Linked DNA regions of Homo sapiens. The protein of the gene in region 1 interacts with the protein of each later gene in a pairwise test. Each region holds a gene or a part of one and is shown in the gene's direction. Other genes may lie near its edges. The genes, in order: SYCP3 and SYCP2.

Region 1 (7,287 bases):
TATACATACATACATATATTTGTATATAAGTTTTTCATTTTTTCAGTTTAGTTATTTTCTGACTTCCTATGCTATTTTCTTTAGGGAGGACAGTGTAAATTAAGCCTCTAAAATAACTCTTTTTACATTAATAAACTATGTAGTTGATACTAAAGACAATTTTGCTAGATAGAGTTTTATAATTAGGTTCAAAAATTCTCAAGTTTTAAATAATATATTAAGTATCAATAATATGAGCTTTGTTAGAGATTAGTTATCTTAAAAAAGAGTTAATATTTAGCTCCTCTAAATGGATTGTTCATACAGTCAACTCTTTTTTGAAACCTTTGCTCTGTCCGGTGGTGAAACAGTGCTTGTTTTATAAATTTATTATAGATAATACTGAAAGTATAAAATATTTATGTAATAGTGCAGCTACAGCATGATTACTGAAAGATACCTATTTATGGTAGATCCATAAGATAAAGGCTTATGTTTAGCAAAGCATTATTTGAAGTAGTAAACATTTTATGAAATGCAGTTCTTATGGGTAAAAATGCCCAATAAAGAGCTCCACAAAAGCATTTAAAACTGATCTTATTCACCTATTTCTCATTGAAAAATAAAGTGATCTTAATTTATCTAGAAATTTACTTAAACTAAGATTTTTTTCTGTCCTTGGTCTTTGTCTCTTAGTAAAAAATGTATTTAAAAGTATCATTGATGGCCAGGCACAGGGGCTCACACCTGTAATTCCAGCACTTTGGAAGGCCAAGGCAGGAGGATTGCTTGAGGCCAGGAGTTCAAGACCAGCTTGGTCAACATAGTGAGACCCCCGTGTCTTTAAAAAAAAAAAAATATATATATATATATATATAAAATTGATTATATTAAAAATAGTTTTCTTCTTTAACTATTTTTATCCTTTTTGGATTCTTTCTAATAGAGTACTTTTACATATTTTCTATAATGAGTTCTAACAATAATTCATTGAAATGTGTCCTTTTAATTGGGGTGTATTTTATAAATTTAGATAAATTTAGCCTTTTTAAAAATTTTTTTTTATTTTTGAGACGGAGTCTCACTCTGTCCCCAGGCTGGAGTGCAGTGGTGCAATCTCAGCTCACTGCAACCTCTGCCTCCCGGGTTCAAGCGATTCTCCTGCCTCAGTCTGCCAAGTAGTTGTGACTACAGGTGTGCGCCACCACGCCCAGCTAATTTTTGTATTTTTAGTAGAGACAGGCTTTCACCACGTTGGTCAGGATGGTCTCGATCTTTTGACCTTGTGATCTGCCTGCCTCAGACTCCCAAAGTGCTGGGATTACAGGTGTGAGCCACCGCGTCTGGCCTACATTTAGCCTTTATTAACAGTGTTTTCTCATGGGGAAATTTAAAGTCTGTCCTTGACACATTGTTTTGTTTATTAGCTCTTTTTTATTGTTCCTAAGTTAAAAAATTATCTCCAGTTAGGAAAATCAGAATTTGGGTGCTAGTAGCTGAGAGTTTTCTCAGAAAAAAAAAGTAAGCAAACAATTCTGCATTTTGAAATTATGCCTATTTCTAAATTTAAGTTTAAATGTCTTTCCAATATTGTTGAACCAACCTTACCCATATTTACTTGAATATGTGGGAACAAAATACTTTTTTCAACATTAAATTTTAATGAATTTTTATTTTCAATCTAGTTGACATTAACAAGGCTCTTCTTGCCAAGAGAAAGAGACTAGAAATGTATACCAAGGCTTCTCTCAAAACTAGTAACCAGAAAATTGAACATGTTTGGAAAACACAACAAGATCAAAGGTAAGGTGGTTGCTTTTTTTTTAGAGCCACATTTCTTAGTATTTACTGGTATAAATTACTTATGAAAAATACTATTCTAGGATCGGCACGGTGGCTCATGCCAGTAATCCCAGCACTTTGGGAGGCCAAGGCAGGCAGATCACTTGAGGTCAGGAGTTAGAGACCAGCCTGGCCAACATGGTGAAACTCCATCTCTACTAAAAATACAAAAATTAACCAGGCGTGCTCGCTTGAACCTAGGAGGCAGAGGTTACAGTGAGCCAAGGTCGTGACACTGCACTCTAGCCTGGGCAACAGAGTGAGACTCTGTCAAAAAAAACAAGAAAAGAAAAATACTATTCTAGTTACTGGGGTTTCTAGTGAAAATGTATTTGGCTTGATTTTTCTCTAAGTATGATAGTCCTGTAGCCCTATAACCTCACTCCTTCATAGAATTGACATTATTTCCTAAAAAATCAATAAAGATCACTTTTTTCCTTTTAGGTAACAAGTGAGGTTATAAAAGTAATTTCGTTTTTTGTTGTTGTTTTATGAGATGGGGGTCTCATTATGTTGCCCAGGCTGGTCTTGAACTCCTAGGCTCAAGCGATCCTCTCACCTCAGCCTCCCAAGTGCTGGGATTATAGGCATGAACCACCATGCCCAGCCTAAAAGTAATTTATGTTCATTCTAGAAATACACTAGTTGAATAAAAGGTAAATGTCATAAAAACCGTTAGTCTTATGATGGTGAATTATGTTCAACAATGTAGAAGAACACCAATCTTGTATCGTATATAATTTGTATGTTTTAGCTGACTTAACTCTTCTTTTGTATAAAATCTTTTGTTAAGCCAAAATAGGGAAAAAAATTAAGCGAACTATTTCTATTTAGAAATCTTATAGGATAAATACAATCACCTTATTTAATGTATTTGTTATATCAGAATCTATATTCAATAGGAAAAAAATGAAAAATAAACTGCTTAGAGATCAGATGAATTTCTTTTTGAAAATTTATATATACAATAAAACTTCCTTAGTTTTCAAGAGCTAAAGCTTGTGACAGGGCTTTTCTTCTATTAGTTTGTTAGAAAAAAAATACTTCTGGAATCAGTGTAAATCATAATTTTACTTTTTGGTTTCCCATCAGAAGACTTAAGCTGCAGGTATTTCCTTTTCTTATATAGTATAACTGTGTCAACTCAGTTTTGTTTTAAATTCTTTTTATATTGGTATGAAATATGACAATAATTCATCATTATGTTTTACAGGCAGAAGCTTAACCAAGAATATTCTCAGCAGTTTCTGACTTTGTTTCAGCAGTGGGATTTAGATATGCAGAAAGCTGAGGAACAAGAAGAAAAAATACTTGTTGGTATCATGATTAGGTTTATAATCAACCAAGTCTCAAGTAGGAATGGACAACCTAGCCTTTTATTGTGACCAGTGGAACTGAGCCAGGTTTCATTAACCATTGCTGGCCATGTGTTTTAAACCTACTGAACTGTAAACCACAGACGTATAGGCACATACCATACTCATAAAAGGCATTTATATTGTTTGGGGTTCCTGCATTTCCAAGTGACAGAAATTTGTCAAAGTACAAAAGAAGGATCATTGGTTTATGTAAAAGAAGTCGGGGCAGTTTAGCTTCAGGCATAGCCAGATGGGAACAGGGAGGGGGTTGCTCATGTAGTGTCATCTGGGTTCTGTCATCAGTACTTAGTAAGGTGTCTTGATGTAGTAAGCAAGATAGTTTTTACAGTCCTAGGCTTATTACAAGTTTAGTAACCCCAGTGGACTGAGAAAATCTTTCTCAATAGCTCTGGCAAAAAATTCCTCTGGGAAAATATGACTGATGGGAGTTTGGATCATTTGCCCATTCTTGAACCAATCATTGTATAGTTAGCCCTCTGTATATAAGGGTTCCGCATCTGTGTATTCAACCAATCGTGGATGAAAAATATTTGGAAAAGGCTGGGCGTGGTGGTGGTTCATGCCTGTAATCCCAGCACTTTGGGAGGCCGAGGCGGGTGGATCACCTGAGGTTGGGAGTTTGAGACCAGCCTGACCAATATGGTGAAAACCCATCTCTACTAGAAATACAAAAATTAGCCGGGCTGTGATGGCGTGTGCCTATAATCCAAGTTACTCAGGAGGCTGAGGCGGGAGAATCACTTGAACCTGGGAGGCGGAGGCTGCAGTGAGCCGAGATTGTGCCACTGCACTCCAGCCTGGGTGACAGAGGGAGACCCTTTCTTGAAAAAAAAAAAAAAAGAAAAAAGAAAAAATGCAAATTGGAAAAATAATCCAGTGTTACAACTATACAGCATTTACATTGTGTTAGGTATTATAAGAGATCTAGAAATGATTTAAAGTATGTGGAAGGATGTGCATTGGTTATATGCAAATATGATGCCATTTTGTAACAGGAACTCGAGCATCTGCACATTTTGGTCTCCTGAGGGGTTGGGTGTCCTGGAACTGGTCCCCCCAGGATACCTAAGGATGTCTGTAGTCAGAACATTGTTGACTTTTAATGGCCAGACTTGTGTTACCTGCAAGTGAGGATATTGGGGGTAGGGATGACAGTGTAAAATAGATAGGATGGATTTGTGGCACTGATAGATTATTGAGCTGTAGTACTAAAAAGAGTAAGTTAGAATGGTAAAGAAGTAGTGGTTAAATACTAGGATAGACAGAGAAACAGTATGTATAATGGTTAGAGCCTGGATGCCAGCAACAATACTGTTTTGGATCAAATTCTTGTTTGAGCAATTGTAGCTGTGAAACCATGGACAGATTATGCCTCAGTTTACTCATCTATGAAAGGGGAATGCTGAGTATCTATCTCTTAGAAAGTTTACCATTACTAATACTGTGTAGTGGTTAGAATTATTAGTAATGACAAAATCTAGGGTGGGAGTATGTAAGTCAATGGCTAAAGTAGGGTAGAGGCCAAAATCATTGAGAAACAGGTCACGAAACGGAAAACCATTATTATTGGAAGGATCATCTGTGTGGACATTGAAATCACCAAGAATTAAGACATGACTTGATTATTGTTAAAATTTCCCATTCAGCAACTGGTAGAATTAATATATTGTTACATATTAGTGGTGAACATAAATTATCTAAATGTGGTCATAATAGTTGTTAAAATTTTAAAAGCATTGATTTTTAACACTTTCTTTTAAGTTTAATGTAGAATTATTTTTTCTAAATTTAAAATTTTACCCAAATTGTTATTACACAGTTTTTTTTCTTTTATATTTGTAGAATATGTTTCGACAGCAACAAAAGATTCTTCAACAATCTAGAATTGTTCAGAGCCAGAGATTGAAAACAATTAAACAGTTATATGAGCAGTTCATAAAGGTTTGTTGTATGTGGTAACACAATACATCGTTATAAAACATAATATATTTATGGAAGTAGAAGATAATTCTTTCTAAGTTTATGGGAAAAAACATTTTAGACTTTAACTACTTTTCCATTTTGAATTCATTGTTTCTGATTTAAGTGATAAATATATTTTTACTTGAGGATTCAAATGGTTTTGTTGGGATTATTCAAGACAGGAAATGGTAAATTGGGAATTTTACTTAGAAATATACTTATCATGCATAAAATCCATACTTTAATAACACTTCAGTCATAGTTCTCTGTTTAAGTGAAAATAGACTCTATAATAATCATTTTTAGGTTGTATTTTACTTGTTTTTTTATCCCCAGTGTTTGTTAAATAGAAAGTACCCAAATTATTGAATTCTCTTGTTTTCAAATGTATTATAGAAGTATTTTATGGCACATTTGCTTTTAGAATTATTACAGTGACCAAAAATGAATTTATATCCAACATAAAATAACAGATATAATAGACATCTGAGGATTAAAAGTCTGTGGATTGATAATTATCTACTGACACATACATATTAGCAAATTGTAGTCTGTACCCCTCTTGTTCAGGCAGAAATATACTTTTTAGTAACTATTCATAGAAGCTCAATGGAATCTTGCATATACTTTTTTTCAGTGGTGGTTCCTTTAGATAGTCTTGTGCAAATACATGTTAAAATAACATTAAAGGAATTGGGATGCTCTAAGTAAACTAGCAAAATTGTTTTAAAATAAATATTTCAGAATAACTTTAATATATATGGCCGAGCACAGTGGCTGACACTTTGGGATGCCAAGGCGAGATCACTCGAGCCCAGGGTTTCAAGACCAGCCTGAGCAACATGACAAAACCCCATCTCTATTAAGAACAAACAAACAAACAAAAATAGCTGGGCATGGTGGCACTCACCTGTAGTCCCAGCTACTGGGAAGGCTGAGGTGGGAGGATCACTTGAGCCCTGGAGGCAAAGGTTGCAGTGAGCTGAAATCGTACTACTGTACTCCAGCCTGGGCGACAGCGAGACCCTGCCTCAAAAAAAAAAAAAAAAAAAAAATTATACACACACATGTTATTTTAAAAAGTATTTCCAAGTGGAAAACTTGTTGTCTTGTTCCAATGCTCTGAGAACCATTTGGTAGTTGGTGTGAAGTTTTGATAAAGTACTAGATAAAGATTTCTTCTAAATGTTATCACTAAATGTTACTATTTAGGATAGGAACTATAGTATAACCTTTGACTCTTCCATCTCCTTTCTCTGTCACATCCAGTTATTACTAGGCCCTGTAATTTTTACTTCTGCAGTGGTTCTTTCTTTTAATGCCCACTGCTACTACCCTAGTTTAGGACCTCATTATTATTTGCTTGTACCATTAAAATTCTTAACTGATGTCTCTGTTCTCCAATCTATCCCTCCTAGATCTGCCATATTATCTTTTAAAAATATATCTCTTCCCTCTTGAAAAACTGTCAGTAGCCTCCTGTTCTAAATTCTTAGGTATTGAAGATCCCCCTATGACATGACCCTCTTTTTAAGCTTCATTTACTACATTTGTTCATTACCCCACCCCTCCACATAACTGCTTTCTCTCAGCTCACTATGTACTTCCATGCTTCTGCTTATGCCCTTCCCCTAGAATATATTTAACTCCTTTTTCTTTATCTATTGAAATCTTAGTATTTTGCCCACTAAATTGGAATTAATCCCCATTTTCCACTATATCACCACAGCAAGTTGTGCTTCCATTCCTATTATAAAATTTTTGTTTTGTTCCTATGTTTTTTTCTCATTGCCATCAGGAAGCAATCATGTATTATTGTTTTTTAATTTCTCTACAGCACTTAATACACACCTTTTACATAGTAGGCACCAGATTAACTGTTTGTTGAATGAATAATAAAGACGTAAGACATAATTTTTATTTTTCATAATGTGAAAGAGGTTGTACTATAGATTATTTTATTCCCTCTAGTGAATTCATGGCACACTATTAGTCATAAGTAGATTATTGCTTGATATTTGGAAAGCTTAATAGAAATGGTTTTTACTGATGTGGGACTTCCAGTCTTTTTTATCTTGACCTTAACAGTTCAGGAAACCCATTGTGGGCAAAGTATACTACATTG
Region 2 (7,287 bases), on another chromosome or scaffold:
AATGTGTTATACTCAAAATGTATCAAATTTGGGTTTATATCACAAACATAAAATAGGTGTAAAAAGTATTTTTCTTTAAAAAATTCTTAAATATTAAAATTATTGTAGAATTGTAATTGTTTCCTTAAAAAATTTTAATAACACCGGAATTGCTTATTTTTGAATAATTGCATATTATTAAATATTATAACAATACATTTATTCACTATTTTAGTGTTTGCTTACTGTCTAAAGAGTCCATATCATGTTCACGTAGTTCATGTCTAGATCTACATATATATTAATATAGATTGCTTACTACTACAGAATGTTCCTCAGCCACCATGTGCTACTGTTGCAAATACTGTGCACTAATTTGCTAGTATTTCTAGAGTCACAAATTGGAGTAAAAAGAGAAGGAAGAAGATGGGCATTTGGCACTGTTAAGAAGTAGTATCTTGTCATGCAAGAATCATCTGTGTTCTTGCTTTGCAGGGGAAGGATTTGACAATATCTCTTTTCTCTTACCTAAGCACTTGCTCACATGCTATCTTTGTTCTGAAGCAGAGACTAAAATGTTAGCATTAGCACAATCTGAAACCTTCTCTGTATTCAATTGTGGCTTCACACTCCCCGACTTCTTTAAGCATTTTTTTTTTATTATTATGGAAAATTCGGACATACGTAAAGTAAGCAGAATAGTGTAATTAATTGCAGTCCTCTTCTTTCATAGGCATAGGCAAAGGAAGTTCAGGGGCCTGAAAGATAGAGTTATGAGAATGAATAATGTGTTCATGGTTATAGACTTTCTGGGGGTAGGGCTGAGTCCTGGATTTTGAGCTAATAGAGATGCCTGTGTGCTCAGTAATAAGAGATAGTGAGAAAGAGATTACACTATATAGAGCGCATAGCAGGGGCCCCTTTTGCTCTGTCCTAATGGTTGTGGTGATTGAAAGGGTATATATGAGTGTATGTTGAACCTTAGGAAACAGAATTAAGTTAATTTAATCAATTGTATTCTCAGTCTAGACACCATGCTTTACTACACTCCTCTAAATAAATAATTAAAATTCTCTTTTTTTTTTTGTCTTTTGGTCCATTTTATTCCCTATCCCTAGGGTTATTTTCTTTACCTGTGCAAATCATCCAATGTTCATATGCCCAGTATTTGTATCCTTCTTTAATAAAGTATCCTCTGGTGTTACACAGATATACACATATCAATAACAGTGCATATAAGCCTTTATTAAGTATACTTTAGATTTTACATAAAGAATTTCTATTATCTCATTCTGCATTTTTTATGCTTTATATTGTGTTTGAGATGCACCATATTCTGAGATACAGATCTTCTTCATTATATTCAGCTACTGAATTCAGTTGCATCACTCACCACATTTCATGTTTACCTCCTCACCCAACACACTGACAGAGGCAGTTTTCAGTTTCTTGATATTAGAAGAAATGCTTCAGTAAATATTTTTATATTCCCTTTGTGCTTCTGAGTTTCTCTAAAGTGTAAAATTAGAAGTGGAACTACTGTGTCATATGGTATTCAAGTTTACATTTTTACCCAATGCTATCAAACTCTTTTTCAAAGTGCAGTTATTTGCTTCCCACCAGGAGTACATACATGATTTCCAATTTCCTTTATTCCCACTGTGACTTCGTAGTATCAGTCTCTTTAGTTTTTGCCAATATGGTGGATGGTGGAGAGGGGACTGGTTATTGTTTTACTAGCATTCTGATTACCATGGAGGTAGCATTTTCATTTCTTTATTAGCCAGTTGAGTTTTACTTTCTGAATGACCTCTTCTTCTTTTCCATTTTTGCTGTTGGGTTATTGCTTTTTTTTCCTCCTTGATTTGTTAAGTTCTTCATAATAATACTTTTTATGTTAATCCTTAGTCTCTTATTCCATTGCAAATGTCTTCCTAGTATGCTGCCTCTCTTTTACAAACAGTGATGCACAAAAAGTTAAAATCTATTACTTTTTATGTTTTGTGCATTTGTTTTAAATTCTTTCCTCTTGGAACATCTTAGTGATAGCCTCCTGAATTTTCTGCTAATAGTTTATAAACATTTACTTTTTACATTCATGTAGTTAATTTATCTAGACCTTATTTTTTTATGGCAAAATAGATTTCTAATGTTATTTTTTCCACATGCCAAGTCACTTTTCCCAGACCATTTATTGACCAGTTTACCTTTCCCGATTTGCGAAACCATCTGACTCAAATATGAACTTCCAATATATGCTTATGTGTTTGAATTCTGTTTTGTTTTATTGATCCATTTGTTTTCCATTCTTAATACTTCACTGTTTATAGTTATTTCTTGTGACTTTGTAATATGTTTTAATATCAAATAAGGTGATTTTTCTTCTCTAATATTTTAAAAGTTATTTTAGTATTAGAGCAGCATTATTCCTCCATACATGTTTTAAAAGAATTAGCCAAATCTCTCAAATTATTATTTTGTGATTTTTACTGGAATTGCTTTGGAGTTTAGAAATTCAGATGTTTATTTTAGTGAAGCATTGATGGTTTTATAATGTTAAGTCCTTCCATTAATGAATAGGAACAACTCCATGTATTCATATCTCTTGTTAAGATCTTTTTGTTAGATTTATTCATTTTAGTTATTTATATTAAAAAATGCAATTGTCTGATTATTGCTAATATAAAAAGGAACACTGTAGATATTTATGTTGAGCCTCGCTGGAATCTCTCAAAGGTCCTCTGATAAACAGCATTCCTCTTTCTTCCTGGGTTCTGACAGAGTAGGAAAAGAAACGTAACCTTCATTAGTCCTATATTGGCTAGGTTCATGGGTGTGAGTTTAGGTTGTTGGCCTAGTGAATTTGCTAATACTGAGCTCCAGAATTGAGCAAACTTACTGCCCAAGGCACTGCAAGGTAATTGAGTTAGACCTTTCCAGCCCTGCATTTTTCACCTTCCACCCTGGAAGAGAAAGCTTACTGTATTGACTCCAGAAAAAAAGGACAGAACAAAATACTGACTTTCTCACAGGGGCAGAGCTTCCAGAAGGAACAAAACTGAAAACAACATGAAACTCCTCTTTCAGTTTTCATGTAAACAAAAGGGTGAGCCTGAGCTGAGCCTGGCTCATTTTCCTTCCCAAATTTACCAATCAAATATTTCCAGCTCCTCAGTGGTGATGTAAATTAAAGAAATAGAGAGAGGCCGATGGTATACTCAGTCTTTCTCACGGAAGCTAGGAGTAGGGAAAAGGTATTTCTCTCTAACATTTCCTAGCTTTTTGTTCACTTAATTATTAACCTGTTTTTTGGAGGAGATTTATCTGGATGGTTCTTTTCCTTTCTTCATGAGGCCATTACCTTCTTTTGGGTATTCTCTTTGGATTGTGGAAGAACTTTAGATGTTGACCCTGGAAGAAGATTCTACTTTGGGTTAGAACAGAAAATTGAAACCTAATGCCACTCTATATCTGAGGCAGAAATGTCACTGTTTTACTTCCCATTCCAAATTATCTCTAGATATATGGTAGAGCCTTTGATGTACTATACTGAACAAAGGTATTTGGCAATACATAAAGATGTTTCAGCAGTAAAATGCCAACAAATTTGAATGTAAAGATTTTCTGTTTTGAACATCTCAGGGAACATTAAGGTTGCAAGATTAAAACCCTTTACAAGTTAAAGACCAAGGACTGAAAGATTTAAGTGTCCAGAATCCTTTTTTTGTGCTTCTGAATTTAAAAGTCTAAAGGCCAAAACTTTTAAGTCCCAAAGACACATTCTCAACAAATCTCATTACGTTCAAGTGCAGTCAGATTCTTTGGTGGAGTTGGAGTTCTTTCATCAGCTGTAGCTTCAGCTGTTTTCCATGGAAAGGAAGTACCAGTTATATGTTCTCAGAAACTGTTTGTCCAATGCCAAAGTTCTGGTATATATTTCCAGTAGACCAGTCTCTGTCAGTTATCCAGAATCTGACTTGTTTCACTTTAATTGAAATGGAGAAAATATTTCAGCAAGAGGCTAATTTTGGCACTACATTTGAGGAAAATTTCTATAATTATGTCACCCTGTAATGGCATTGCTGCCTTATGTGCAAGGGGGTAACCCAGGCTGCCCTGGTTACTAGCTCTTATATGACATGTTTTCCTTCCCCACCCAGTACATTCAAAACCTCAACTTTTATTTCTTCTTTGAATCCCATGTTTTTGGCATTCCAATATTAAGTTTGGGCTTTATGTAGTGACTGTTATGGGTTGAATTGTGTTCCCCTAAAAAGATATGTGAGATTCTAATTCCCAGTATCTCAGAATGTGACCTTTTCTGGAAATAGGGTCTTTTGCATTTAACCAAGTTAAGTTATTAACTTATTATTTAAGTTATTAGGGTGGGCCCTAACCCAATATATATTTATAAAAAGGGGAAATTTGGATACAGATATGCATAGAAGACAATGTGAAAAGTAAAAGGAAGAATACCATGTGATAAAGGAGGCAGAGAGTGGATTTATACTGCCACAAGTCAAAGAATGTCGGCAGCTACCAGAAGCTTAAAGATCCTTCTTCCAGCACTTTCAGAGGGAGTATGATCCTACTGACCCCTTTACTTTAGACGTCTTGCCTCCACACTGAGATAATTTCTGCTGTTCTAAGCCATCCAGTTTGTGGCACTTTGTTAAGGCAACCCTAGGAAATTAATACAGTGAGAGTCCACACATAGCTGTGAGCAAACATTTTTCTTCTTGTTACAGAGGCAGTTGGCACAATTCCATCCCTTATGGAATTTATTGGATTTATGAAACCTGTCTTACAGGAGAAGGTTCCTCCTTCAATCCATATTTGTTTTGGCTGGAGACTGTCTCCCAGCAGATTCCTGAATGGAAGCTGCTTTTGTTACTTCTAAAGTTTGTTTCCTTAATACTAGGAGGTGGGGTTAGGAAGAATTCTGAGCCTATAGACAAACATAAATTCAGAGCTATTATTTCCACAGTTCTCTGTGAGGTTTTGACAAACTAGTGAGGTTTTAAAGCAGGCAGTATTGTTCTGCTTCACTTCATCTAAATGAACACTCATGAACTTCTGGTTTTCTTAAAAAAAGAAATCTAACAGATTGATAATAAATTATAGTACCTACATGCATTTGGGAGCAGTAGTAGTCCCAGTAATCCTCTGTTTGATGAGGAAATCTTCCCTCTATTTAAAACATTTAGGAATCAAAGATGTCAATTATAACCTTGTTACCAGGGCAATACGTTAACAAGTGAGGCAACTGGTCAGAGTTATAGACTCTTTTGAAGGTGGAAGGTCAGAGGCTATGACATTAAATAGGCTGAGGTGCCAAAATAGGACCCTTTTATTCAGTTCATGTTTCCAAGAGTATGTTTACATTAACTGATAACCAGATAACTTAGTAACAGTTGTGAATATTCACACATGTGAATAATGTACAAGAGAAAAATACTTTCATCTGTGTGGCCTGCCTTGTTCTCTCAATGATGTTTTCCAACAGAGTTCTTTCTTTTGTTAAATCCTATGCTCATGGATTGAGAAAATCAATAGGTTATTTTAAGTTCTGGGCTACATGTGCAAGATGTGCAGGTTTGTTGCATAGGAAAATGTGTGTCATGGTGGTTTGCTGCACCTATCAACCTGTAAGTATTAAACTAAGCATGCATTAGCCATTTTTCCTAATGCTCTCCCTCCTGCTGCCCCACCAGGCACCAGTGTGTGTTGTTCCCCTCCCTGTATCCATGTGTTCTCATTGAACAAGAGTTTCTGATTTTAAGGTTGTCCAACTTATCAGTTGTCTTTTATGGTTAGAGCTTTTTATAATCTTGCTTATTGCTTATTGCAGGTCATGAAGATGTTCTAATATATTATGTTCTAGAAACTTAATTGTTCTCAATTTTCATTCCACCTGGAAATGGTGTTTGCATATGGTATGAGATGGTATGAAGTAGTGAGGTTTTGTTATATTTCTTATGAACATCCAGTTGAACAGTATAGATTAATTGAAAAGATTATCTTACCCTTTCCTTACTGCTTTATGTTCTACCTTGATCATAAGTCAAGTCATGTGTATAGGTCTGTTTCTGGATTCTCTTTTCAGTACCATCTGTGTTGGACTTTTATGGTAAATCCAACAGTAATATAGTTTTATTAGCTTTCTTTTGTTTGTGTGGTAGCTATCTTTTCTTTTTATTTCCAACTGTTTTGTAGCCCTTTATTTAAGGTATATCTCTTAAAATATAATATTTTTGGACAGCATATAGTTTTAAAAATGATTAACCTACCCGACAATCCAACTTTTTTCTTTTTAATTTTTGTGGGTACATAGTAGGTGTCAATGGAGTATGTAAGATGTTTTGATACAGGCACGCAATGTTAAATGAGCACATTATGGAGAATGGGGTATCCATCCCTCAAGCACTGATCCTTTGAGGACAATCTGCCTTTTAATTGGAGTTGTAGGGGAGGCAAAACTTTACCTCTTCCCTTTTAGAGTTAAATTGACATAGACAGATCAACTGGAGAAAAACACACAAATTTCTTTAATACATGTTTTACATGACACAGGATCCCTCATAAGAACATGAAGACCCAAAGAAGTAGTTAGGGTCAGTTATATACTGAATTGGACAAAGAATAGTAAGTTGTGAACTAAGATAAGGCAAAGAGGCCTTAGGCTAGGGTAGTTAATTGGGTGGAGAAATGACTAGGAAGATAGGAGTGGGTTTAACAAAGTTTGGTTGTACAGATTTTCTTAATTTTAACTTCCCCTCCTTAATTATAAGATTACTTCTCTTTTGGTATAGAGAGGACATCTTTCACATGGGAATTTCATTTCCTGCTTTTAGGAAACAGAATGAAGGTGGGAGTGATCTTGTACCTGCTGTTTTTTGTTGAGTGCCTTTAATTTAAAATAGTCAATATGTCAGAGCAGCATATTGGGAGGGTGACATTCTTACTTCTTCAGAGTATTTAATATATTTTACTTTCAATGTAATTATTGATATGTAACTTTTAATCTATCACCTTACTTTGTGTTGTCTGTTTTTCTTTCTTCTTCTGGGTCTCTTTCTGTTTCTCTCTCTCTCTCTGGATTGATTAAAATGAAAACATTACAGCCTCCCTCCTCACACTTAGCTTAGTAGTTACGTATTCTTTCACTACTCATTTAGTGGTTACCTTAGAAATGATGACATGCATTCTTTTTGTTTATTTTAGAGACAGAGTCTCCCTCTCTTGACTAGGCTAGAGTACAGTGTTGTAGTCATAGCTCACTGTAACCTTCAACTTCTAGGCTCAAGC

What was found.
Region 2: the proteins of SYCP3 (region 1) and SYCP2 interact in a two-hybrid assay, tested with the Homo sapiens proteins (one study listed by BioGRID).

What each region holds. Positions count from the first base shown.
Region 1 is NC_000012.12:101,729,422-101,736,708, reverse strand, and holds part of SYCP3 (synaptonemal complex protein 3), read left to right. Parts: intron 1-1,664; coding exon 1,665-1,782; intron 1,783-3,034; coding exon 3,035-3,134; intron 3,135-5,042; coding exon 5,043-5,141; intron 5,142-7,287.
Region 2 is NC_000020.11:59,923,617-59,930,903, reverse strand, and holds part of SYCP2 (synaptonemal complex protein 2), read left to right. Parts: intron 1-7,287. UniProt on the Homo sapiens protein: Major component of the axial/lateral elements of synaptonemal complexes (SCS) during meiotic prophase. Plays a role in the assembly of synaptonemal complexes.